Homo sapiens: one gene and its partners. The protein of the gene in region 1 interacts with the protein of each later gene in a biochemical or structural test. Each region holds a gene or a part of one and is shown in the gene's direction. Other genes may lie near its edges.

Region 1 (3,431 bases):
CGGCTGCTCACTCAGAATCCTTCAGAGTGAGAGAGAGACAGAGTGAGAGTGGGAGTGTGTGCGTGTGTGATCTAAGACCTAACTGTGTGGTTCAGGCCTGCTGGGCCCTGTAGAGAGACCGTGGTGGCTTTGTGCAGCACTATGTCTGGTCTCCGTCACTTGAGTTGTGTTGTTAGTTCTCTGCTCTCAGTGCTTGCTGCCTTCCAGCCTTGGAGGCTGCTGGATCCTTTGGGAAGACACCGGGCACTGTCTCAGCCCTTCCTTCCAGTTGTTGGTGGCTTTCGTGCAGGCTAAGGCTTTGGCTCCCTTAGCCTGGGTCCCCTATAGCCTTTTCACTGGCTTCTCCAATGGTTTCGACATAACCATCAGCTAGAAATCTGGGTAGCAACAGCTGTTTTGGGAAGCTGAGGTGTCCTTTCCCCTGGCCCAGCCCACTCCCTCCCATTTTTTTCCCCAGCTTTATTGAGGTGTGATTAACAAAGTAGTATGTATTTAAGGTGTACAAAATTTTTTTTTTTTTTTTGGAGACAGAGTCTTGCCCTGTCACTCAGGCTGGAGTGCAGTGGCACGATCTCAGCTCACTGCAGCCTCTGCCTCCTGGGCTCAAGCGATCTTCTGCCTCAGCCTTCCGAGTAGCTGGGACCACAGGCACACGCCACCACGCCCAGCTAACTTTTGTATTTTTGGTGGAGATGGGGTTTTGCCATTTTGGCCAGGCTGGTCTTGAACTCCTGAGCTCAAGTGATCCACCCGCCTCGGCCTTTCAGTGTTGGGATTACAGGAATGAGCCACTGCACCCGGCCAAGGTGTACAACATGTTTTTTGTTTTTTTTTTTTTTTGAGATGGAGTCTCACTTTGTCGCCCAGGCCGGAGTACAATGGCGCGATCTCGTCTCACTGCAAGCCCCGCCTCCTAGGTTCACGCCATTCTCCTGCCTCAGCCTCCAGAGTAGCTGGGACTACAGGTGTCCGCCACAACATCCGGCTAATTTTTTGTACTTTTTGTAGAGATGGGGTTTCACCGTGTTAGCGAAGATGGTCTTGATTTCCTGACCTCATGATCCTCCCACCTCGGCCTCCCAAAGTGCTGGGATTACAGGTGTGAGCTACCGCGCCCGGCCAACAACATGTTTTGATAGATGTATACATTGTGAAATTAAGCTAGTGACATCTGTCACCTCACATAGTGACCCTTTTGGTGTGCGTGTGGTGAGAACATTCAAAAGCTACTTTCTAGCTGGGTGTGGTAGCGCATGCCTGTAATCTCAGCTACTGAAGAGGCTGAGGCATGAGAATTGCTTGAACCTGGGAGGCAGAGGTTGCAGTGAGTCGAGATCTCACCAGTGCACTCCCGTCTGGGTGACAGAGCAAGACTCCACCTCAACTACTTTCTGAGCGATTTTTTTTTTTTTGAGATATGGTTGTGCTCTCTCACCCAAGTTGGAGTGCGGTGGCGTGATCTCGGCCGATTGCAGCCTCTGCTTCCCAGGCTCAAGCAATACTCCCACCCCAGCTTCTCGAGTAGCTGGGATTACAGGTGTGTGCCACCATGCCTGGCTAATTTTTGTATTTGTAGAGATGGGGTTTTGCCATGTTGCCCAGGCTGGTCTTAAATTCCTGGACTCAGGTGATCTGCCTGCCTTGGCCTCCCAAAGTACTGGGATCACGGGCATGAGCTATCATCACGCCCGGCCCCATCTCTTTGAGGGACAGGACATGTGGGGTTTCTTGCTCACCCCCACTCTTGTGGGACGCGGCCTGTGCCCTGATTTTCCTTCTTGCCTTGGTGTCTGAATCTGCAGCATCGCCCTGAGCAACTGGTGGTTTGTGGCCCACCTGACAGACCTGCTGGACCACTGCAAGCTCCTCCAGTCACACAACCTCTAGTAAGTGGCCGGGAGGCACCGATCCTCCTCTTCTTACCACCAGGCCCCCGAGGGTGGTGTGAACTGAATGCCTGAAAGGGAGGTTGGGCTAAGGGGGCCCTGAACAGGGCAGGCCAGGAGTCTTGGTCTTTTGTTATGTTTTATTCCAGTTTCGGTTCCAACATGAGAGAGTTCCTCCTGCTGGAGTACGCCTCGGGACTGTTTGCTCATCCCAGGTAGGAAGGACCCCATGGGTGTGGGCTATGCGGGTGCTCTTCAGCATGCGGGTGCCATTGGAGCTTGGACTGTTCTCTCCCAGTTGGCTCCTTGAAGGCTTCGGAAGGGTCAGTGAAAGGGAGCTGTAGGTGCCAGTCCTCGGAGCCATGAGGCAGCACCTCATGTCTGTCCTCCTCGAACCTTTGCAGCCTGTGGCAGCTGGGGGTCGATTACTTTGATTACTGCCCCGAGCTGGGCCGAGTCTCCCTGGAGCTGCACATTGAGCGGATACCTCTGAACACCGAGCAGAAAGCCCTGAAGGTGCTGCGGATCTGTGAGCAGCGGCAGATGACTGAACAAGGTGAGCTGGCCCTGCTCCCAGCCTACTGTCTGTGGGACGCAGGAGTCAGGGGATCCTGAGGTCACACTTTATGCCTACCCCAGCCATCCTCCTCCTCACGAGCCACACTGGAGACGTGGGGCTGTGGACGCCAAGAGGTAAACTAAGAGATGGGATAATTACTTGGGAGGGACAGGAAAGCTAGGGATCCACTGGAACCCAGACAAAATCTACACGCCATCTGGAAAGGCCTGAGCCGCCCCTTTTCTCACACACTTGATTCCACGAGGTCAGGGCTGGGGTTGGCGCTGTTTCCCTGTCCAGGTGGGTTGCTATTGCTAGCTCAGCCTGGCTCAATGGGGAAGCAGTGCTGGAGGTGGCTCCAGAAAAGCAGAGAGAGTGGAATGAGGATGACCAAGTCTGCCCCTTCATTTCTCCCCTCACTGTTGAGTAATGTAAACATGAGTTATTACCCTGCAGAGAGGCAGTTGCATGTTCACGACCATTTCTGAAAGCATATGGTATTCACGATCCACAGGAAGATGTGATTTGAGGCATCTGGAGAGGTAATAGAAGAGCTGACACGTAGGGAGAAACACGTAGGGAGAAAAAAAATAGAAGAGCTGACATGTAGGGAGCAACGTTTTGCTCCCCTTGAAGCCACACACACTCATAGAGCCAGTCTTGCCGTGATGGGCACTTACACTCTTAGCAGATCCCAGACACTGTTAATCAGCCGAGTTTCCAGCTCTGCCGATCCAGCTGCATTTAGAGCCCAAAGAGTGGCTCTGCGGTGGAGTGAGGCTGTGAGGCCACTCCGGTCCCCACAGGGCTCAGGAATGGAGTGATTTGTGGAGTGAAAGCCGTTTACCTTTTCTTTTCCCCTGCAAAGTTCGCAGCATTTGTAAGATCTTAGCCATGAAAGCCGTCCGCAACAATCGCCTGGGTTCTGCCCTCTCTTGGAGCATCCGTGCTAAGGATGCCGCCTTTGCCACGCTCGTGTCAGACAG
Region 2 (8,222 bases), on another chromosome or scaffold:
CGGATCATGAGGTCAGGAGATCAAGACCATCCTGGCCAACATGGTGAAACCTCATCTTTACTAAAGATACAAAAATTAGCTGGGCGTGGTGGCGCGTGCCTGTAATCCCAGCCACTTGGGAGGCCGAGGCACGAGAATCGCTTGAATCCAGGAGATGGAGGTTGCAGTAAACCAAGATCATGCCACTGCACTCCAGCCTGGCGACAGAGTGAGACTCCATCTCAAAAAAAAAAAAAAAATCAAAACCAAGTATTTGTAGAACACTGAAAAAGGAAGTTTGTGGCCAGGTGTGGTGGTTCACGCCTGTAATCCCAGCTACTCAGGAGACTGAGACAGGAGAATCACTTGAACCCAGGAGGTGGAGGTTGCAGTGATCAGAGATCGCCACTGCACTCCAGCCTGGGTGACAGAGCAAGGCTCTGTCTCAAAAAAACAGGAAAAAAACGCAAAAGGAAGTTTGTGAGACACAGAAATTGCTGTGGAATTTACATCTATTTGAATGGCCAAAAATTATTATAAATAACTTATAATTTTATTTTATTACTGTAGCATTTTGTAGTTTGCCTGGTACTTTTCTTAATTAGATAATTTGATCTAATTACCTGAAGCTTTAGTAATAAAGAACTAATTTTTTTTGTCAGTTACCACATTTTGTTTTTAGCTTTAAGAGGTTAGTAGTGCACAATACTGAGGCTAAAGGTTAAGCAAGGGTGCCAGGTTTACAGAGATATTAATTAATCTGGATGAGGGAGGCAAAGGAAATTATGTTAATTAGGCATAGAAATTAAAAAGTCATTCAGCTTATAGTTCAGGAGAGCCATTCTTTCATTGCTCATCTTTTGCCTTTTTCAAAATGAGGTTGACCACAGATGAGTCTAGGGAGGGGAATGACGTGGGGATCGTGACTTCTGCAGGGGTAGTCTTTTCCACTTTTCCCCTGTCCATCTGTTTTTTCTTCTTCTTTTCTTTTTTTCTGAAAGAGACTCTCACTCTGTTGCCCAGGCTAGAGTGCAGTGGCACGATCATAGCTCACTGCAGCCTCCAACTCCTGGGCGCAAGTGATCCTCCTGCCTCAGCTCCTGAGTAGCTGAGACAAACGGCACATGCCACCACACCAGGCTAATTAAACAAATTTTTTTTTTGTAGAGATAGAGTCTTATTATGTGGCCCAGGTTCTTCTTGAACTCCTGGCCTCAAATGATCCTCTCTCCTGAGTCTCTCAAAATGCTGGGATTACAGGCATGAGCCACCCTGCCGCAGTGTTTCTTCTTTTTGTCAAAGCACTTAAGATCTTTTTGTCATGAAGTTAGTCACAGTAGGGTTACTTTTTGTTTCATAGTTAATGACCAAAAATTTCAGGAGGAAAAATTACTAAGACCTCTTAAGTATCTTTTAAAAATATGTTGAATGCTTGAAAGCTTTTTTCAGGCAAAGAGCTCCTTTCTATCTGAGCCATAAGAATATGCTAAAAACAGTTCATAAGGATGGAATCTTCAGTTCCCATGTGTGACATTCTCAGGTGCATACTTGCAGTGTGGCCATGTCAGCTATGTGGCAGAGACCTAGATTCACTAGTAGTGTGACAGGCTAACTGTAAGCTGGTTGTCTGCTTGCCTCCAGTGTGTTCATTCTGTGAATGAAATGTGTATTTCTTTTGTTATCTAAAATGTTCTTTCTCCCCGTTTCTAGCTCTCGTGCTCATTCCCCCATGATCGCCGTAGGAAGTGATGACAGTAGCCCCAACGCAATGGCCAAGGTTCAGATTTTTGAATATAATGAAAACACCAGGTCAGTCCTGCTTTGGTTTTAATAATTGTTCAGAATTGCATTTAATTTTTTAAAATGTTATTTCTTTATTCATTTACAGAATTATGTGTCATTCATCATATGTTTGCTGATTTACTATAATATACCAAGTTCTGTGCTAGGCTGTGATAGCACAGGCATGAGTGATAAAGAGGAGAAAGTAGACCAGCCTGGCCAATATGGTGAAACCCCGTCTCTACTAAAAGTACAAAAAATTAGCTGGGTGTGGTGGCAGGTGCCTGTAATCCCAGCTACTCGGGAGGCTGAGGCAGGAGAATCGCTTGAACCCAGGAGGCGGAGGTTGCAGTGAGCTGAGATTGCGCTATTGCACTCCAGGCTGGGCAACAAGAGCGAAACCCTGCCTCAAAAAAAAAAAGAGGAGAAGGTAATTGATCTCCCAGTATGATGTACCATCTTGCAGTGAAACAAAAAATAATAGTAAAAAAGGGTGATGAATCTTATGAAGTGGAAGAATTAGGGTGCTAAAGAGCTTATACCTGGGGAACCTAATCTGGTTTAGGGGCTAGGAAGGTTCACCTAGAAGATGACCTATAGGGTGAGTAGAAGTTAGCCAGACAAAGAGGGCAGAAGCACTCCTGGTGGAGAAAACTGCATGTGGTAAGGCCGTGAGCAAGAGAGAGGGAGTATATTTATACTGTTGTTGGAACATGCTGGGCAAAAATGAGTGTGGAGAGAAATAGGCAAGACTTGTATCTATAAGAAGTAATGTCCATTGTTTCAGTTTTATCTTACAGGTGATGTGAATAGGGAATAATGGGATCAGATGGATCTTCTATAGGTGTGACAAGTGTTTTGGAGGGAAACATGGTGGATTCACGGCTAGGATGCTATGAAGACAGTCCAGGTGGGAGAGTACGTGGCTTTGGGATAGTAGTAGCAGTGGCATGGAGATAAGTGGACAACTTGAGAATAATTGAGAAGTGGTATCAATAGGATCTGGTGATTGATTGGATTTGAGAACTGAACTGAGGAAGAAGGGGGAAGGTGTTAAGATGATTTCCAAGGTTCTGGCTTAAGAGTTCAGTGTGTAATTTCAATGTGTGTAATTTCTTGAGATAAGGAACTCTGGGAACAAGGCAGATTTGGGTAGAGTGTGGCAGCATGTGAAGGTAAGTTAATTTTGGTCATGCCGAGATACAAGTGTCTGCAAAGCTTCTGAGAGCCAAAAGCAGTGTCTCAGAGGCACACTACTCAGTCTTACAGGAGAAGAGAGCACTTGTCAGGTGATCAGATGGGCTTCGCAGGTACTAGACAAAATTCTTGAGTCTAATAGTCAGATCTTAGGCAGGGCCAGCAGTAGAGAAGGAACTAGTGTTACTCCCGTGGGCTCTGCAATTCCAAATGTTACCATCTGGGTTACCAAGGGGATCTTACACCTTCTACCTTCCTAGATTGTTGGTGTCTGCAGAGAGGCTCAGTCTTCAACAGTGCTGTCCAGTAGAATGTGCTGCAGTGATGGGAAATGGTCTTAGAGATTTTCATGGAGTTTTAAGCTGTAAAAACTATGAGCCCTATTAATAGCACATTTTATAGAGGCTTCATGAAGTGTTGGGCTTGTTAAAGTAAATTTCAACCTGAGCTGAGCAGAATGAATATGTAGACATAAGCCCAAAAACGTAAAAGGTGTATCATTGGCCACGCGAGGTGACTTATGCCTGCCATCTCAGCACTTTGGGAGGCTGAGGTGGGTGGATCACTTGAGTCTAGGAATTCAAGACCAGCCTGGACAACATGGTGAAACCCTTTCGCTACAAAAAGTACAAAAATTAGCTGTGGGGATGATGGCGCATGCCTGTAGTTCCAGCTACTTGGGAGACTGAGGTGGGATGATCACCTGAGCCTGGGAGGTCGAGGCTGCGGTAAATCAAAATTGCACCACTTCACTCCAGCAGTGTCAAAAAAAGATTTTTTTCTAAAACATAGGAAAAGAAAATATTTCATAAGTAAGATTTGAGTAAAAAGATAAATAACTTGCAGTTAGTTCTGAAAGAAAATACAGGCAAATAGAAATTACCTATTTTTTTTTTTTTTGAGAGTCTCACTCTGTCACCCAAGCTGGAGTGCAGTGATGCAATCTCAGCTCACTGCAACCTCTACCTCCCGAGTTCAAGTGATTCTCCTGCCTTAGCCTCCTGAATAGCTGGGATTACAAGTGCGTGCCACCACGCCTGGCTAATTTTTGTATTTTTAGTAGAGACGGGGTTTCACCATGTTGGCCAGGCTTGTCTTGAACTCCTGACCTCAGGTGATCCACCCACCTCGGCCTCCCAAAGTGCTGGGATTACAGGTGTGAGCCACCACGGCCGGCCTAGAAATTACCTAAGTATTTCTAAATTACCTAAATAATCCAATGTTAAAAATAATCTGAGATTGCATTTGAGTCTAGTCTCTTAGCTAACAGAATAAATCTAGACTGGGGGATTCCCTGTATTATGTCATGTGACAAGGAGCCTGAGGGTGGAGCAGTTCTGGGGTTAGGTAGTGACTCAGTTGCTCAATGATGACATCAAGGACCTACCTAAATATTTTCCACTTTTTTCTTGCTGTCATGCTTAGTACACTGGTGATAGCTCCCTCTTATGATCACAAAAGAGCTGCACAATGTCAGGTTTTACATGCTAATACAAAGAAGGGTATTCTAGAAAAAAACACCTTTCCTAGAAGTATCTTAGCAGGCTTCTTATCAGGTGCTGGCGGCTGGAGTTTGGTCATCCAGCCATGCCTTAGCTGCAAGAGAGTGAGACAGCAAGTGTCTGGCATTTTCAGCATCAAAAACGAGGGGAAGTGGTGTTGGGGAAAGAGTGTCTGCAGGTGGGGGTGTGTGCTATTGACTTGGGAAGTAATCAAACCTATTAAGTTCAGCACTTTTTGGAGTTCTGTTGCTGGTTCTTTGAGGTAAGCATTGTTTGAAGGTTCTTATTTAGATTGAACGTGGAGGAGATGTGATAGTGGACTATGTAGTATCGTTATTAATACCTGTTTATCTTTTTCTCTCTTTTTTTTTCTTTGAGATGGAGTCTCACTCTGTTTCCAGGCTAGAGTGCAGTGGCGCAACCTTGGCTCGCTTCAACCTTTGCCTCCCGGGTTCAAGCGATTCTCCTGCCTCAGCCTCCCCGGTAGCTGGGACTACAGGCACCCGCCACCATGCCCAGCTAACTTTTGTATTTTTAGTAGAGATGGGGTTTCACCATTTTGGCCAGGATGGTCTCCATCTCTTGATCTTGTGATCCGCCCACCTCAGCCTTCCAAAGTGCTGGGATTACAGGTGTGAGCCACCACGCCCGGCCTGTTTATCTTTTTCTAAGTAGTATCACCATTTAGTAGACAGGAGACATTTGCCAAATTAACCAGTGTTGGATATATTTGTTTTTATTTGTGAGTGAAAATACTAAAACAGATCTAGGATTGATAGTGATAATAGAAGTGCCATGTGTTTATATAGGTTACCGGGCATTTTTATGTGTGTTATGAAGTTTGAATCCTACCAACCACCTTGTAAGTAGAGGAGACAGCTTTTATTAACACTGTTTTACAAATGAGAAAACTGAGACCAACAGAGTGAATGACTAGTCTAAGGTCCAGAGTCAGGACCAGAAACAAAGTCTTTTTTGTTCATTCTCTTTATTTACACTCTCATTGAGGATCTTATTTGGCTCCTTCTGATAGGAGAAGCTTTAGATAACCTTAATTATTTTTATTTTTATTTTATTTTTTTTTTTGAGATGAAGTTTCACTCTTGTTGCCCAGGTTGGAGTGCAATGGTGTGATCTCGGCTCACCGTAACCTCCGCCCCCTGGGTTCAAGAAGTTCTCCTGCCTCAGCCTCCCAAGTAGCTGGGATCACAGGCATGTGCCACCACACCCAGCTAATTTTGTAGTTTTAGTAGAGATGGGGTTTCTCCATGTTGGTCAGGCTGGTCTCGAACTGTCGACCTCAGGTGATCTGCCTGCTTCGGCCTCCCAAAGTGTTGGGATTACAGGCGTGAGCCACCGTGCCCAGCCACCTTAATTAATTACAATATATAGCTTGCCTCAGGTAAGAAAAAAAAAATCTCACTTTTTCAACATTTCATAAGCAGCATGGACTGTACTAAGAGCTGAAGGAGCTTACAGCGCCTAGGATATGGATGAGGATGGTCACCTGCTAGAGATGGCAGCACATACCTGCCTGGTAGGGTGAGAAGTTTCAGCTGATGATGTTTGAGCATGAATCTTGAAAGACAGAGGGTGTTCTGCAAGCAGAGAGGAGGCAGGAGCAAAGACAAGGGCGTGGGGTCGAGGCGGTGGGTGGGGAGGCTAATGCAGGAGAGAGACAGGGGAGGGGCAGGCCAACAGGCCAGGCAGATTTTGGAGAGTGGTGCTTGCCAAGTCTGATCTCTATCCTGGCAGCATTTGGACTTTTGCAGGGTCCAGTAGAGTCACAAGGTTGTATTTACCTTTTAGGGAGATGACTTTGGCAGCTGTGTGGACTGGGAGCAGGAACTCAGGGATGAATGCAGTAGCCCACTATGATGTGGAATGAGGACATGCACTGTGGCGTGGGATGAAGAGGGACCGGGGAGACTTGTCTAGGAGGCACCAGCTGTAGGTCACGTGAGTCTTGGTTTCTGACCTAGCTGATGGTAGTGCCACTTGTTGAGATGGGGACTGAGCAAAGAGGAGTGAATGTGGTAAGCACAATTTATTTCAGACATATGTTTGAGGTGCGTTTGGAACATCCAGGTGGGGATGTGTAAAGGCAGATGGATAGAATAGCTGAGATTAGTTGTCTATTGCTGCATGACAGCATTATCACTCAGTGGCTGAAACAGTACAGATTCGGTATTTCAATGTCTGTGGGTCAAGAGTCAGGCCAGACTGGGAAAGACTCCACTTCGGAGCTCACCTGGTTGTTGGCAGCACTCGTGTTCCTGCCACGAGACCCTCCCTTGTGTCCTCACAGCATGGCAGCTGCTTCTGCAAGGCCTGAAAGCAGGAGAGTCTTCTCATGAGGCAGGCGTCACAGGCTTGTGTGTTGTAGTCACACGGGTGTTGTCCCACCACCTTGCCATGTTCCGTCCCCTGGGTAGAAAACAAGCCACGGGCCCCACTCACACTCATGGGGAGGAGCCTCCACAAGGGCGGGACCACCAGGAGGTGCGGGTCATGGGGGCACTTAGAATCTCTCTGCCACAGTACGGGTGTTCCTCCCACTTTACGGAGAACTTGCTGAAGGTCGTTACAGCCTGGATTCAAACACGTTCTGGCTGCAGCATGTGTGCTCTTAGCTCCACCTGTCCTATTTCTGGCCTTTGGTAGAAGGCCAGAATCTATCCCCTGAATTGCAGGGGATAGATTTAGGAATTATTGGTTTATAGGTACTGAAACCATGGGTGTAGAAACCATGCATATTCTGGCCGGGCGCAGTGGCTCACGCCTGAATCCCAGCACTTTGGGAGGCCGAGGTGGGCAGATCACGAGGTCAGAAGATCGAGACCATCCTGGCTAACATGGTGAAACCCTGTCTCTACTAAAAAATACAAAAAAAACAAAAAACATTGGCCGGGCGTGGTGGCAGGCCCCTGTAGTCCCAGCTACTCCGGAGGCTGAGGCAGGAGAATGGCATGAACCTGGGAGGCGGAGCTTGCAGTGAGCCGAGATCACACCACTGCACTCCAGCCTGGGCGACAGAGCCAGACTCTGTCTCAAAAAAAAAAAAAAAGCATATTCTGATTGTGTAGGCCCCAGGAGGGGGCTGAGATTCTGGATTTCCCAGAAGCTCCCAGGCTGCTGCAGACCACACAGTAGAAGCAAGGATGTGGATGAGATTGCTTAGGGTGATTGGATGGGTGAGAAAGATCAAGGAGAGAACCTTGAGGTGTGTACCAGCTTGGTAGAGATTTTAGGAAGAATGTTGGGATGAAAAGAAGGTCAAGTGAAGAATGCTGTAGAAAGGTGGGATGGGGAGATGTCTCCACCCAGTCTCCTACATGCAGGGGGTTAGGTGCTGCCGTTCTGTCCAGGATATTCAATCTTAGAAGAACCTAGTAGAAAACTCTGATCTACCACTGCCTTCATTATCCTCTTATTCTGTATTTATAGATAAAGAAATAGAATTGCAAGGATGAAATAGCCTTTGCATAGTTTCCTTTTATTATCACTTAACTCAATTCCTGCTGGGCGCAGTGGCTCACACCTGTAATCCTAGCACTTTGGGAGGCAGAGGCGGGTGGATCACCTGAGGTCAGGAGTTCAAGACCAGCCTGACCAACATGGTGAAACCCTGTCTCTACTAAAAATACAAAATTAGCCAGGCGTAGTGGTGCACGCTTGTAATCCCAGCTACTCAGGAGGCTGAAGCACGAGAATCACTTGAACTCAGGAGGCGGAGGTTTCAGTGAGCCAAGATTGCGCCAT
Region 3 (8,222 bases), on another chromosome or scaffold:
GTCTTTGATATCATGCCAGAATGGATTATCCTTTTTTTTTTTTTTTTTTGAGACAGAGTCTTGTTCTGTCGCCCAGGCTGGAGTGCAGTGGCACAATCGCGGTTCACTGAAACCTCTGCCTCCTGGGTTCAAGCCATTCTTCTGCCTCAGCCTCCCTAGTAGCTGGGACTAAAGGCATTTGCCACCATGCCTAGCTAATTTTTGTATTTTTAGTAGGAATGGGGTTTCACCATGTTGGCCAGGCTGGTCTCAAACTCCTGACCTCAGGTTATCTGCCTGCCTTGGCATCCCAAAGTGCTGGGATTACAGGTGTGAGCCACTGCGCCCGGCCCTATATATTTTTTTAAAAATGGGGTCTCTCTCACCCAGGTTGGAATGCAGTGGCATGATCACAGCCCACTGCAGCCTCAGCCTTGCCTCCCTGGCTCAATCAGTCCTCCCACCTCAGCCTCCCGAGTAGCTGAGGCTACAGGCACGCACCCCTACTACACCCGGCTAATTTTTTATTTTTTGTAGAGACAGGGTCTCAATATGTTGCCCAGGCTGGAGTGCAGTGGCATGGTACCTCACTTAAGCCTCAACCTCCTGGGGTCAAGTGATCCTCTTGCCTTGCCCTTCTGAGTAGCTGGGACTACAGGTATATGCCACTACACCTAGCTAATTTTTTTTATTATTAGATTTCTATAGAAATTATGATTCCATAAAAGATTTTGAGGAAATGATGGCCGGGGGCGGTGGCTTATGCTTGTAATCCCAGCACTTTGGGAGGCCGAGGCAGGTGGATCACCTGAGGTCAGGAGTTCGAGACCAGCCTGACCAACATGGAGAAAGCCCGTCGCTACTAAAAATACAAAATTAGCCGGGCGTGGTGGCACATGCCTGTAATCCCAGCTACTAGGGAGGCAGAGGCAGGACAGTCACTTGAACCTGGGAGGCAGAGGTTGTGGTGAGCCAAGATCGCACCATTGCACTCCAGCCTGGGCAACAAGAGTGAAACTCCGTCTCAAAAAAAAAACAAAACAAAACAGATTTTGAGGAAATGAGGAAGACTGGTATCTTTCAGAATTGAAAGTGATTTTGGAATATATAGAATTTCTTTGGGGCTGGGCACGGTAGTTCATGCCTGTAATTTTAGCACTTTGGGAGTCCAAGGCAAACAGATCTCTTGAGCCCAGTTGTTTGAGACCAGCCTGGGCAACATGGAGAAACCCCATGTCTGTTAAAAATACAAAAGTTAGCCAGGTATGGTGATACATACCTGTAGTCCTAGCTACTCAGGAGGCTGAGATAGGCGGATTGCTTAAGCCTTGGAGGTCAAGGCTGCAGTGAGCCATGACCATGCCATTCTGCACTCCAGCCTGGGCGCCAGAGCAAGACCCTGTTTCAAAAAGAGAGAGAGAATTTCTTTGAGTTGAATTATGTAGAAGTTTGTCACTGACCTATGTTCCTAAAGTATGAAGCATACATATGTGGGCTAAGAAATAGTTTTTCTTGATAAATAATCAACAAATAAAAAATAAAAAGCCCTCCATCTGAGACTGGATCCAAATTCTTGGAACATTTCCAAATTTTGGTTTGGTAGAAGTCAGTTGCTATTTCTGTGATAAAGACCAGAAGTATTCAGAATCTTGGCATTAACCAATATTGGATATTGCCTCTTAGAAATTCATTTTTATATTTCATTAGGATCTTTCTCAGTTTTTCCAATAATATAATCTTCATATATTAATGACACAGGAATTGAAAAATAAGACAACTTACCAATTTAAAAAAAAACTTTTCCGTAAAAGACAGTCATTCCTAGCTGGGCACACACCTATAATTCCAGCACTTTTGGGAGGCTGAGGCAGGAGGATTGCTTGACGCCAGGAGTAGAAGACCAAGGTAGACAACATAGCAAAACCCTGTCTCTATTTAAAAAAATAAAAATAAAATAAAATAAGCTTTTTCATAAAGTAATAGGGTTAAATGTTTTAGCAATGATTTTCTTTTCTTTTTTTTGAGACGTAGTTTTGCTCTTTTTGCCCAGGCTGGAGTGCAGTGATGCAATCTCAGCTCACTGCAACCTTGCCTCCCGGGTTCAAGCAATTCTCCTACCTCACCCTCCCAAGTAGCTGGGATTACAGGCACCTGCCACCACGCCGGGCTAATTTTTTGTATTTTTGGTAGAGATGGGGTTTCACCATGTTGGTTAGCTGGTCTTGAACTCCAGATCTCAGGTGATCCACTCACCTCGGCCTCCCAAAGTGGTAGGATTACAGGCATGAGCCACTGCGCCTGGACATTTTTTTTTTTCCTTGAGACAGAGTCTCACTCTTGTTGCCCAGACTGGAGTGCAATGGTGTGATGTTGGCTCATTGCAACCTCTGCCTCCCGGGTTCAAGCGATTCTCCTGCCTCAGCCTCCTGAGTAGCTGGGATTATAGGCACCCACCACCATGCCTGGCTAATTTTTAGTATTTTTAGTAGAGACGGAGTTTCACCACGTTGGCCAGGCTGGTCTTGAACTCCTGACCTCAAGTGATCCACCCACCTTGGCCTCCCAAAGTGTTAGGATTACAAGCATGAGCCACTGTGCCTGGCTACTATTTTCATTTATTTCCTTGCCCAGTACGCAAATTTAGTTGGCTTCTTTTTCCTTTCTTTTCTTTTTTTTTTTTTTTTCTCAGACAGTGTCTCACTTTGTCGCCCAGGCTGGAGTGCAGTGGTGCGAGCTCGGCTCACTGCAACCTCCGCCTCCCAGGTTCAAGTGATTTTCCTGTCTCAGCCTCCTAAGTAGCTGGGACTACAAGCACGCGCCACCACGCCTGGCTAACTTTTGTATTTTTAGTAGAGATGGTGTTTCACCATGTTGCCCAGGCTGGTCCTGACCTCAGGTGATCCACCCGCCTTAGCCTCCTAAAGTGTTCTTTTTCCTTTCTATGTGTTATAGCCATTGGAAAGTTACATTATGTCTTTTCTTTAATTCTGAAGCCTTTAATTTTTAGGACAGACTTGAGGCTCGAAGGTATGTGATGGAGGATAATGGAAGATGATGCCTAGAGATGGGGGTTTAATGTTGTTTGTTCAGCGAATCTGCACAGGAATGAGCTTATTGATTCTTGTCTCTTAGTGTGGGAAGTTCACTTTCACCCATCCAACCCAGAACATCTTTTTACCTGCTCTGAAGATGGATCCCTCTGGCACTGGGATGCTTCCACAGATGTACCTGAAAAGTCGTCACTCTTTCACCAAGGTAAAACTTTTTAATGAATACTGTTATGTGTACTTTTTTTTTTTTTTTTTAAGACAGAGTCTCACTCTATCACCCAGGCTGGAATGCAGTGGCACGATCTCAGCTCACTGCAACCTCCGCCTCCTGGGTTCAAGCGATTCTCGTGCCTCAGCCTCCCGAGTAGCCAGGACTACTAGTCATGCACCACCGTGCCCGGCTAATTTTTTTGTATTTTTAGTGGAGATGGGGTTTCACCATGTTGGCCAGGCTGGTCTCGAACTCCTGACCTCAAATGATCCGCCTGCCTCAGCCTCCCAAAGTGCTGAGATTACAGGAGTGAGCCACCACACCTGGCCTTTTTTTTGAGACAGAGTCTTACTCAGTCACCCAGAATGGAGTGTAGTGGTGCAGTCTCAGCTCACTGCAACCTCTGCCTCTCAGGTTCAAGCTTTTCTTGTGCCTTAGCTTCCCTAGTAGCTGGGATTACAGGTGTGTGCCACCACAACTGGCTAATTTTTTTGTATTTTTAGTAGAGATGGGGTTTTGCTATGTTGGCCAGGCTGGTCTCAAACTCCTGGCCTCAAGTGATCTGACCACCTCAGCCTCCCCAAAGTGCTGGGATTACAGGCATGAGCCACTGTGCCCAGCCTGTTATGTGTAATTTTATCATACTTTTATTTTGTTTTTTTTTTGTTTGAGACAGCGTCTCACTCTGACATGCAGGCTGGACTGCAGTGGCATGATCACAGCTCGCTACATCCTCGCCCTCCTGGGCTTAAGTGGTCCTCCTGCCCCAGCCTCCCAAATAGCTAAGACCAGAGATGCTTGCAACCACAACCAGCTAATTTTTTTTTTTTAATTTTTTTGTAGAGATGAGCTCTCACTATGCTGCCCAGGCTGCTCTCAAACTCCTGAGCTCAAGCAATCTTCCTGCCTGGGCCTCCCGAGGTATTGCAATTATAAGCATGAGCTGGCTGTACCCAGCCATTTTATACTTTTAAATACCAAATTAGACATCCTCGTATTTTTTACTTAATGGCAAAACATTTTTATTCTCTTGCCTCAGAGTAAATTTGAGTATCACAGGGCTTGAAATCTGACTGTCAAGTTACTTACTACTGTATGGCTGATGGCTAGAAATGCTGTAAGCTGGCTCACTTGAGACAGCCAAGGTTCTCCTTTGTGAGTGCCATTAACCTGGACCCTCATGCCATAGCATAGACAGTGGCAAATCTTTCATATTGCATTGCCAAGTTTGTGTGAATGGCAAGAAAAAAGTTGATATTTGATGTAACTGAGGGTACTGGTTAAATGGCCTGATCTCAGGCCGGGTGTGGTGGCTCATGCCTGTAATCCCAGCACTTTGGGAGGCCAAGGCAGGTGGATCACCTGAGTTTGGGAGTTCGAGACCAGCCTGACCAACATGGAGAAACCCCGTCTCTACTAAAAATACAAAATTAGCCGGGTGTGGTGGCTCATGCCTGTAATCCTAGCTATTCAGGAGGCTGAGGCAGGAGAATTGCTTTTACCCAGGAGACAGAGGTTTCAGCGAGCCGAGATTGCACCATTGCACTCCAGCCTGGATAGCAAAAGCGAAACTCCGTCTCAAAAAAAAAAAAAAAGGGCGTGCTTTCCTCATTACAGTCAGTTGTAGGTTATGGTCAGCCAAAGACCATGCACTTGTAATCGGGGTTTATGTGTTTTTGCATTTTCCAAGTTTCCTGTTTTTGAGGGTTTGTCTGTGGCTCCAAAGTTCTTTTGCTTATTCATTTATTCAGAAATATTTACTGAATGCCTACCATGTGGTAGGCATTCTTCTAGGTGTTAGGACGTGTAACAGTGAGCAGAACGAAATGTCGAAACGCATAGAGCAAATATTCTAATAGTTAAAAAAATAGATAATGTATCAGTAAGAGTCCAATTAGAATGTCAGAAACTACCTTAGATGTAGAAGGAATTGGTCTCACATGTGTTAGAAGGGCTGGGAAAACAAAAGGTAATAGGAGGGGTGCTGGGAGAACAAATAGGAAGAAAAGGGAAAACCCAGAAATAGTAATTGTTAGTACCCCTGCTACTTGACTGTTGAAAATGCTGTAAAAGTTTGTTCTGAATTAGGAGAAAAGGCGCTCCCTCAACCAGGCTGAAACTACCACCAGTGTTGTTGCCAGAAACCTGGAGCAGGAAGGAGCTGCTTCTCCCTTCCGCCTTCCAGTCACCCACCATTAATACCTGCTATTGGCAAGGCCCATCTGGATGGCAGATGGCAAAGCAGCCTGGAAAGTGGAGTTTACCAACTTCTACCTCCTACAGTATATAGTGGAGCACAGCAAAGTGGAAAAGGAGGCCGGGCGCGGTGGCTCACACCTGTAATCCCAGCAATTTGGGAGGCCGAGGTGGGCAGATGACCTGAGGCCAGGAGTTCAAGACCAGCCTGGTCCAACATGGTGAAACCCTGTGTCTACTAAAAATACAAAAATTAGCTGAACGTGGTGGTGGGTGCCTGTAATCCCAGCTACTCTGGAGGCTGAGGCAGGAGAATTGCTTGAACCCGGGAGTTGGAGGTTGCAGTGAGCCAAGGTCACGCCACTGCACTCCAGCCTGGGCAACAGAGCAAGACTCCATCTCAAAAAAAAAGAAAAAGGAAAATAACATGGCCAAATACACTGCTAATTACCATGAAGAAGAATACAGCAGAGTAGGAGGATAAAGAATAAAGACAGGGGTGAGGGGAGCTACTCTAGTGAGAGTCAGAAGAGGCCACTTGGCAGAAGGAACATTTGAGCAGAGACTTAAGAGAAGTGAAGGCATAAGTGACATGAAAGCATTCCAGGCAGAGGAAACAGCAAATGCTGAGGGCCTGAGACAGGCAGAGAACTGCAAGGACACCACGGTTGGAGCTCAGGCAGCAGGGTACAGTGGTGGGAGATAAGGACTGGTGGCTGAGGAGCCCTGGGACTTTGTAGCCCATGATAAGGACTTTAGACTTATGGGAGGGGGAGGAGAAAAGTGGAAAACAGGGAGATGAGGAAGGAGTCTTATCACAGTGGCTTGAATAATGTGTTAATCTTTACAGCGTCCAAGAGCAATGTAAAATGTAGGGGCAGTAAAAGATAAACAGAAAAACTAAGGGGAAAAAAATTCTAAAACTTCTTCAGAAAAATTCTGGAGCGGAGAGCATGTGTGGAGCATGCATGCATGTCCATGCTATAACTTCATCTACAGAGAAACAAACAGTTTCATCTAAGGATTAACTAAGTATGTACTTCGTTTTTACTTCCTTCCTCCCCTAACCGCACAGTCTTGAACTTGCAAGTTTACTTTTAAGGAACCTTGGTTAGACTGGAAATAAAACTTTATTCTGTGTCTACTATTGCAAGGCACAGTATTAGACACTGTGAAAAAGTAAAACATATAAAATATGCATCCTGCTCTTAAGACATATTTAGTCATGGACAGAGGCATGGATAGTTCAATTAGGATATAAGAATTGTTATAAAGTAGTAAATTAATGGTACATACAAGTGCTGAGGGTTCAAGGAAAGAGAAAAACATGAAGTAGAGGTTGTCTTCAAAGTTTTCTTAGAGAAGGAAGTTCAGCCATATTTTAAAGGATCAGCAAGATTTTAAATGTACTAATCTTTAAGCTTCAAGACATAGGGACTTGGCACAGAGCACTTAGCACAGAGCCTGGCACATAGTAGGTACTCAGTCATTTGTTGAGTGAATTAAATTTGTACTTATTTGATATGACAGCAAGTTGAGAGGAAAGTAAGTTGCGAATAATGACTAAAATTGAAATATACTGCCTCTGCCTCACTTTATTCTATAGTAAGTACAGTGCGCTGTTAGAGATAAAACCTTATAATCTAGTAGTGTTCTAATCTGCTTGTAAGAACATTTATCTAAAAAGCATAAGAATGAAAGATTTGAGGTAAGGCGATTATATTTTAAGAAATATAGTAACAAATATATATTTAGAAATATATTTCTAGAAATGTTCATCTAGAAATATGTCTAGAAATTCTTTCTCATGATCATTTTATTTTGTTATTACCCAAGAGTTTATATTTCCATGTATTACCTACATTTTTGGTTTCTTTTTTTTCTTTCCTTATTCAACTTGTATGCTGGCCGTTTTGCTACCTTTCTGAGACTTTCCATTAAAAGATGAACAGAAAGTCAGTTGAAATCACCTGCTTTTCCTGAAGACTTCGAGTTTGGTATCCATATTATCCCATGGAAATTTGAATATTTAATATCACTGAATAAGCCTTTGGTCCAAAGTGGTGATGTATAATAATGGAATTATTAGCCTATTATTCTGAGAATTAAACACATTGATATCATCACCTTTCTAAATATCAGTAGAAGTTTGAATGTTTACTAATATAAAAATCATCTTGAAAGATTTCTTCCTTTTCTTTTTTTCTCCCAGGAGGAAGAAGCAGTACTTTTTTGTCTCATAGCATTAGTAACCAAGCTAATGTTCACCAGTCTGTCATTAGCTCCTGGCTCAGCACTGATCCTGCAAAAGACCGAATTGAAATCACAAGCTTACTTCCCAGTAGGTCTCTGTCTGTGAACACTTTGGATGTTTTAGGTCCTTGTCTTGTTTGTGGAACCGATGCAGAAGCAATTTATGTTACTAGACATCTTTTTTCGTAGAAGTACTATAATTATAAGATTTCAGATAGAACATGCAATTAGCCTTTTGAAATCCAACTTCTGTGCAAAATTTTAGTATCAGAAAATACGAGATTTGCAGGGGAAACATCAGTAAACTACCATTAATGTCAATGCCCAGTTTTGACTTTTGTTAGCCTGACACTCCCAAACAGTTGTAGAATCCGATAGATGACTGATGGCAAAAGATTGTGAACATGTGGAAGAAAATCAGTGGGATTCTGGTGCTGATGAATAGGTTGCCTTCAGAGTATTATTGACAGACAGCTTGTGGAACTAATTCTTTATTTTTGATGTTGTGGGAATTAACACATCAATGGTGGTTA
Region 4 (6,887 bases), on another chromosome or scaffold:
AGATGAGAGGCAGGGGTGGGGATGGCATGTGCACCAGGAGATGTTAGAGAAACCCTGAGGAAGAGCAGCGTGCAGCAGGTGATGGGGGAGAGTGGGCAGCAAGCGAGGCCAGGACAGCCACTCTGCTCAGTCACCAGTCCACACACCCAGGGGCTCACTCTGCCCCTCTGAGCACCCAAGGACGTTAAAGAGCTGGAACTGTTAGTCTAAATATAGGACCATCCAAGCTCTGAACCAAAATGTGTCCCTTGCCTCAACTCAGGAGATCCACAGAGGCAGAAGTAAGGAATTTATTTTCTGAAAGATAGATTTCTATCAGTTCTGGGTGACATGTTCTGACACTTGAAATGACACCTAGGACAGCACATTTCAGGCATCTTGCTCATTGTTCACTGTAGTAGAAGCTACATGCTAGCCAGTTGTAAAAATGAAATTAAGTAATGTGTGCACAGCATTTAACATAGCATCTGAGCTTCAGGAGCACTCAATTAATGACCACAGTTGTGATTCTTTAGGCAGATGCATTTTTTTCCAACTTTGATCAGAGGTCTTATTTAGCTTCTCCAGATTTCAAGAATCTGGCTCAGTGATATGAAATACAAGACTTGTGAAAAGTGTCAATTGCAAGAGAAATGGAAGGATAAAGTATACAGGTGGGTGGAAAAGAAATTCACAGTCACTGCCAGAAAAAAAATTCTTGAGAATCAAGTCCTGATGATGTTAGGGCTTATAGTTCTTATTATAAAGAGTTTTATGTACTCATTCAGTGAACATTTATTGGTGCCTCCTTTAGCCAGGTACTATCATAAGAGCTGAAAATAGAAGCATAATCCAGTCCTTGATCTTGAGGAACATGCTGTGTGTAGCAGATAACATAATAAGTGCTTATCTAGATGCATGCAGTGTTATGTGATAAGAGTAATATGACAGAGGATACAGATTAGGCTTCACAGAGAAGGGGGATTTGAGCAGGAGGTATTGAAGGGTGAATAGAAGCTCACCAATCATTTTGGGCAGAGGGGCAAGGACCTGCAAAACCACTGAAGCATGAAGGAAATGGTGAGTTTAGGGAAAATGAAGAGAAGATGGCTGTGACTGAAGCACAGGATTTGGGATTGGAGAAGGGACTGGAGGTGAGGCTGAAAAGAGGCAAACTCAGAAAAGATGTTGTGCTGGGCAGTCTGGACATTATCTTTGAAGCCCACCACATATAAGTCATAGGGCTACTGGAGGTTTTAAGCTAAGAGTGACTATTCAATTTCAACTTAAGAGAAGATAGGTTGAGAGGGAACATGGCTTGAGATGAGCCATGAGCAAAGGAAAGACTACAACAAAGCCAGGAGTGAGGAGTGTGTGAAGCAAGAAAGTGACAGTTGAAAGCAGTGCAGAGGGGATGAATCTGAGAGGCATCTATGAGGTGGAACTCAAATGACATGATAATAATACAGGGCATTTCTCTGTGTCAGATGCTGTCCTAAGTCCTTACTCCATTGATCTTCACAGCAACTCAGCATAGTTAATATTTTATGCATAAAGAAATCGGCACTTGAAGGAGTAATTGGCCCCAGATTACACTGCCTATAAGGATTCAAATCCAGGTTTGTTTGGCTCCAAAAACTGGCTCCTAATTTTCAGAAGGAGAAGCAACCCAGGGCAATGCCCAATTTTGCTTCTTAGGCAATGGAGGAATCCACAATCGGAAGGAGTTTTCAGCAGTGCCCCATTTGGGGTGGGTTGAATTTGAGGTCCCTGCATGATACCCACTTTGCTCACTTCAGTGCCTAAAACTGAGTATGGTTCATAGTAGGTGTTCAATAAGTGTTGATGCAGTGAATACATGCATGGGGAGATATGCATCAGGCAATGGGAAATTCAACTCTAAGGCTTAGGGGAAAGCTGGAGCTTGAAGACAGAGCTTTAGAAAACAGTAGCATAGAAGGGAGTAGGAACCATGAGTTTAGACAATACAATTCAGGAAGAACTTTGTAGCAAGGATAAAGAGGCAAAAAATTAAAGAGGTGAGAGCTAAGTGTGGTGCCTGGGGAATCTTAAGGTGTGGGCACGGGGAGGAGATGCCAGCAAAGAACATGAATAAAAAGCGGTAGCACAGCCCCTCCCATCTGGAAGCCAAAAAGAATTGTAAATGGAGGAAGTTAGCAGAAGGATCAAATACTTGAAGAGGGTGGAATTGGAATAAAACCAGGGCATTTGAAAAATTGGGTTGTCACTGCAATCTTAACAAGAGAAGTTTTGGCAGGATGATGGAGGCAGAAAGCTGAGAGAATCATCAGTTAGAACGTTTTTGACTTCAGAGAACAGAAAATGCAGTTCATAATGGCTTTAAAACAGGGGCTTGTTTTTCTCCCAGCAATTTGAGAGGCCAAGGCGGGTGCATCAGGAGGTCAAGAGACCGAGACCATCCTGGCCAACATGGTGAATCCCCATCTCTACTAAAAATACAAAAATTAGCGGGGCATGGTGGTGCACGCCTATAGTCCCATCTACTCAGGAGGCTGAGGCAGGAGAATCACTTGAACCCAGGAGGTGGAGGTTGCAGTGAGCTGAGATCATGGCCACTGCACTATAGCCTGGAGACACAGCGAGACTCCGTCTCCAAAAAAAAAAAAAAAAGAAGGCAGAAGGTGAATAGTTCAAGGGTGGGTTTAGGACTCAGTGATAATAGGATTCTGCCTGGCTTCTCATGGTTCTCTAGGTCTTCCATTCATGGCACCATGCCCTCACTAGGCATGCTGCCAGAGCAGGAGGGGCAGGTGGAGGGTTCTCTTGTGTCTGTCTTATCAGGGAAGAAGAGCTTTCTCAGAAGCCCCCAGCAGACTCCCTTTTCATATTATGGTCCAGCAATGAGTCACAGACCTATGCACCACCTGCAAAGGAGCCAGAGAAAACAAACGCCCAGCGCTTTTAGCCTGAAAATGAGAATCTGGTTTGCTGGGGAAGATAAAGGGTGTCGGAAAATGGCTGTTGGGTAAATCATTGATGTCTGCCACTAGGAATGAAAGGCAAATCAGGAACTGGCACACATGCTTTCAGGGAGATGGCTGCAAGGGAGAGGGCAAAGACTGGGAAGTTGCTTATGTGGTGCCAGACTATTTGGAAGATCATGGATTGCGGTGTTTGTGTTGTGTGGTCATCATTTTGTTCTTTGTTTACAGAACAGAGAAAGTGGATTGAACAAGGACGCATTTCCCCAGTACATCCACAACATGCTGTCCACATCTCGTTCTCGGTTTATCAGAAATACCAACGAGAGCGGTGAAGAAGTCACCACCTTTTTTGATTATGATTACGGTGCTCCCTGTCATAAATTTGACGTGAAGCAAATTGGGGCCCAACTCCTGCCTCCGCTCTACTCGCTGGTGTTCATCTTTGGTTTTGTGGGCAACATGCTGGTCGTCCTCATCTTAATAAACTGCAAAAAGCTGAAGTGCTTGACTGACATTTACCTGCTCAACCTGGCCATCTCTGATCTGCTTTTTCTTATTACTCTCCCATTGTGGGCTCACTCTGCTGCAAATGAGTGGGTCTTTGGGAATGCAATGTGCAAATTATTCACAGGGCTGTATCACATCGGTTATTTTGGCGGAATCTTCTTCATCATCCTCCTGACAATCGATAGATACCTGGCTATTGTCCATGCTGTGTTTGCTTTAAAAGCCAGGACGGTCACCTTTGGGGTGGTGACAAGTGTGATCACCTGGTTGGTGGCTGTGTTTGCTTCTGTCCCAGGAATCATCTTTACTAAATGCCAGAAAGAAGATTCTGTTTATGTCTGTGGCCCTTATTTTCCACGAGGATGGAATAATTTCCACACAATAATGAGGAACATTTTGGGGCTGGTCCTGCCGCTGCTCATCATGGTCATCTGCTACTCGGGAATCCTGAAAACCCTGCTTCGGTGTCGAAACGAGAAGAAGAGGCATAGGGCAGTGAGAGTCATCTTCACCATCATGATTGTTTACTTTCTCTTCTGGACTCCCTATAATATTGTCATTCTCCTGAACACCTTCCAGGAATTCTTCGGCCTGAGTAACTGTGAAAGCACCAGTCAACTGGACCAAGCCACGCAGGTGACAGAGACTCTTGGGATGACTCACTGCTGCATCAATCCCATCATCTATGCCTTCGTTGGGGAGAAGTTCAGAAGGTATCTCTCGGTGTTCTTCCGAAAGCACATCACCAAGCGCTTCTGCAAACAATGTCCAGTTTTCTACAGGGAGACAGTGGATGGAGTGACTTCAACAAACACGCCTTCCACTGGGGAGCAGGAAGTCTCGGCTGGTTTATAAAACGAGGAGCAGTTTGATTGTTGTTTATAAAGGGAGATAACAATCTGTATATAACAACAAACTTCAAGGGTTTGTTGAACAATAGAAACCTGTAAAGCAGGTGCCCAGGAACCTCAGGGCTGTGTGTACTAATACAGACTATGTCACCCAATGCATATCCAACATGTGCTCAGGGAATAATCCAGAAAAACTGTGGGTAGAGACTTTGACTCTCCAGAAAGCTCATCTCAGCTCCTGAAAAATGCCTCATTACCTTGTGCTAATCCTCTTTTTCTAGTCTTCATAATTTCTTCACTCAATCTCTGATTCTGTCAATGTCTTGAAATCAAGGGCCAGCTGGAGGTGAAGAAGAGAATGTGACAGGCACAGATGAATGGGAGTGAGGGATAGTGGGGTCAGGGCTGAGAGGAGAAGGAGGGAGACATGAGCATGGCTGAGCCTGGACAAAGACAAAGGTGAGCAAAGGGCTCACGCATTCAGCCAGGAGATGATACTGGTCCTTAGCCCCATCTGCCACGTGTATTTAACCTTGAAGGGTTCACCAGGTCAGGGAGAGTTTGGGAACTGCAATAACCTGGGAGTTTTGGTGGAGTCCGATGATTCTCTTTTGCATAAGTGCATGACATATTTTTGCTTTATTACAGTTTATCTATGGCACCCATGCACCTTACATTTGAAATCTATGAAATATCATGCTCCATTGTTCAGATGCTTCTTAGGCCACATCCCCCTGTCTAAAAATTCAGAAAATTTTTGTTTATAAAAGATGCATTATCTATGATATGCTAATATATGTATATGCAATATATATAGGCTCTTGCTTGATCTCTCCAGGAGGTAGTGATTATGAGAAGGGGGTGGAGAATGATGAGTTCCTTCACCAGGAGCAAAGGACGGGGATCGTGTGGAACCACTGCAGAACTATTTCCGAAATCAACTAAGTGGAGAGAGCCAGGAAGGCTGCATCAGAACCCAGTAAAGCTTCTTGTCTGGATCTGAGCTGGTTTGTTTTGTGCTTGCTTTTCCCTGCCTTGCCACTCCCCTCACTCTTCTCTTTTCCCCACAGCCTTTTTCACATAGCTCTTGGCTGTAGGATTGCCCCACTCCAAAAACCAGTGTGTGGAGGTCCAGGAGTGAGACCAGGAAAGAATGTGAAAGTGACTACACAAGGACTCCTCGATGGTCGTGGAAAAGGAAAGTCAATTGGCAGAGCCCCTGAAGCCAGTCTTCAGGACAAAGAAGGAGCCTAGAGACAGAAATGACAGATCTCTGCTTTGGAAATCACACGTCTGGCTTCACAGATGTGTGATTCACAGTGTGAATCTTGGTGTCTACGTTACCAGGCAGGAAGGCTGAGAGGAGAGAGACTCCAGCTGGGTTGGAAAACAGTATTTTCCAAACTACCTTCCAGTTCCTCATTTTTGAATACAGGCATAGAGTTCAGACTTTTTTTAAATAGTAAAAATAAAATTAAAGCTGAAAACTGCAACTTGTAAATGTGGTAAAGAGTTAGTTTGAGTTACTATCATGTCAAACGTGAAAATGCTGTATTAGTCACAGAGATAATTCTAGCTTTGAGCTTAAGAATTTTGAGCAGGTGGTATGTTTGGGAGACTGCTGAGTCAACCCAATAGTTGTTGATTGGCAGGAGTTGGAAGTGTGTGATCTGTGGGCACATTAGCCTATGTGCATGCAGCATCTAAGTAATGATGTCGTTTGAATCACAGTATACGCTCCATCGCTGTCATCTCAGCTGGATCTCCATTCTCTCAGGCTTGCTGCCAAAAGCCTTTTGTGTTTTGTTTTGTATCATTATGAAGTCATGCGTTTAATCACATTCGAGTGTTTCAGTGCTTCGCAGATGTCCTTGATGCTCATATTGTTCCCTATTTTGCCAGTGGGAACTCCTAAATCAAGTTGGCTTCTAATCAAAGCTTTTAAACCCTATTGGTAAAGAATGGAAGGTGGAGAAGCTCCCTGAAGTAAGCAAAGACTTTCCTCTTAGTCGAGCCAAGTTAAGAATGTTCTTATGTTGCCCAGTGTGTTTCTGATCTGATGCAAGCAAGAAACACTGGGCTTCTAGAACCAGGCAACTTGGGAACTAGACTCCCAAGCTGGACTATGGCTCTACTTTCAGGCCACATGGCTAAAGAAGGTTTCAGAAAGAAGTGGGGACAGAGCAGAACTTTCACCTTCATATATTTGTATGATCCTAATGAATGCATAAAATGTTAAGTTGATGGTGATGAAATGTAAATACTGTTTTTAACAACTATGATTTGGAAAATAAATCAATGCTATAACTATGTTGATAAAAGATTTAAAAACAACTGGCTGTTTTTTTACACTGTGGTGTGGAAGATTGTGTTGTGTTCACAACTTTTCACTTCTTCCCCTGTGTGATTACACACACCTGCCCTTGTGGTGTGACTTGCAGTGCGCCCTACAGGCCACACACCCCACGCCCTCCACCACTGGCTCTGCTGCTGGAATGTGAGCAGAAGTGACATCTGCCTCATCCAAGCGGAGCCTCTTGCTCAGCCACAGGAAGGCCCATTCCAGATCACACCCGTCAGCCCG

What was found.
Region 2: the proteins of NUP85 (region 1) and SEH1L form a complex in vitro, tested with the Homo sapiens proteins (one study listed by IntAct).
Region 3: the proteins of NUP85 (region 1) and NUP43 form a complex in vitro, tested with the Homo sapiens proteins (2 studies listed by BioGRID).
Region 4: the proteins of NUP85 (region 1) and CCR2 interact in a biophysical measurement, tested with the Homo sapiens proteins (one study listed by IntAct).

What each region holds. Positions count from the first base shown.
Region 1 is NC_000017.11:75,229,538-75,232,968, forward strand, and holds part of NUP85 (nuclear pore complex protein Nup85), read left to right. Parts: intron 1-1,802; coding exon 1,803-1,886; intron 1,887-2,035; coding exon 2,036-2,101; intron 2,102-2,290; coding exon 2,291-2,442; intron 2,443-3,313; coding exon 3,314-3,431. UniProt on the Homo sapiens protein: Essential component of the nuclear pore complex (NPC) that seems to be required for NPC assembly and maintenance. As part of the NPC Nup107-160 subcomplex plays a role in RNA export and in tethering NUP96/Nup98 and NUP153 to the nucleus.
Region 2 is NC_000018.10:12,969,464-12,977,685, forward strand, and holds part of SEH1L (nucleoporin SEH1), read left to right. Parts: intron 1-1,689; coding exon 1,690-1,788; intron 1,789-6,269; exon of another isoform or gene 6,270-6,419; intron 6,420-8,222. UniProt on the Homo sapiens protein: Component of the Nup107-160 subcomplex of the nuclear pore complex (NPC). The Nup107-160 subcomplex is required for the assembly of a functional NPC.
Region 3 is NC_000006.12:149,726,625-149,734,846, reverse strand, and holds part of NUP43 (nucleoporin Nup43), read left to right. Parts: intron 1-3,111; coding exon 3,112-3,234; intron 3,235-4,083; coding exon of another isoform or gene 4,084-4,214; exon of another isoform or gene 4,215-5,328; coding exon of another isoform or gene 5,329-5,357; exon of another isoform or gene 5,358-6,286; coding exon of another isoform or gene 6,287-6,327; exon of another isoform or gene 6,328-6,367; intron 6,368-6,368; coding exon of another isoform or gene 6,369-6,457; exon of another isoform or gene 6,458-7,648; coding exon 7,649-7,878; 3' UTR 7,879-8,222. UniProt on the Homo sapiens protein: Component of the Nup107-160 subcomplex of the nuclear pore complex (NPC). The Nup107-160 subcomplex is required for the assembly of a functional NPC.
Region 4 is NC_000003.12:46,354,304-46,361,190, forward strand, and holds the end of CCR2 (C-C chemokine receptor type 2), read left to right. Parts: intron 1-3,173; 5' UTR 3,174-3,224; coding exon 3,225-4,307; 3' UTR 4,308-5,373; coding exon of another isoform or gene 5,374-5,557; 3' UTR 5,558-6,637; downstream 6,638-6,887. UniProt on the Homo sapiens protein: Key functional receptor for CCL2 but can also bind CCL7, and CCL12. Also transduces signaling mediated by CCL13.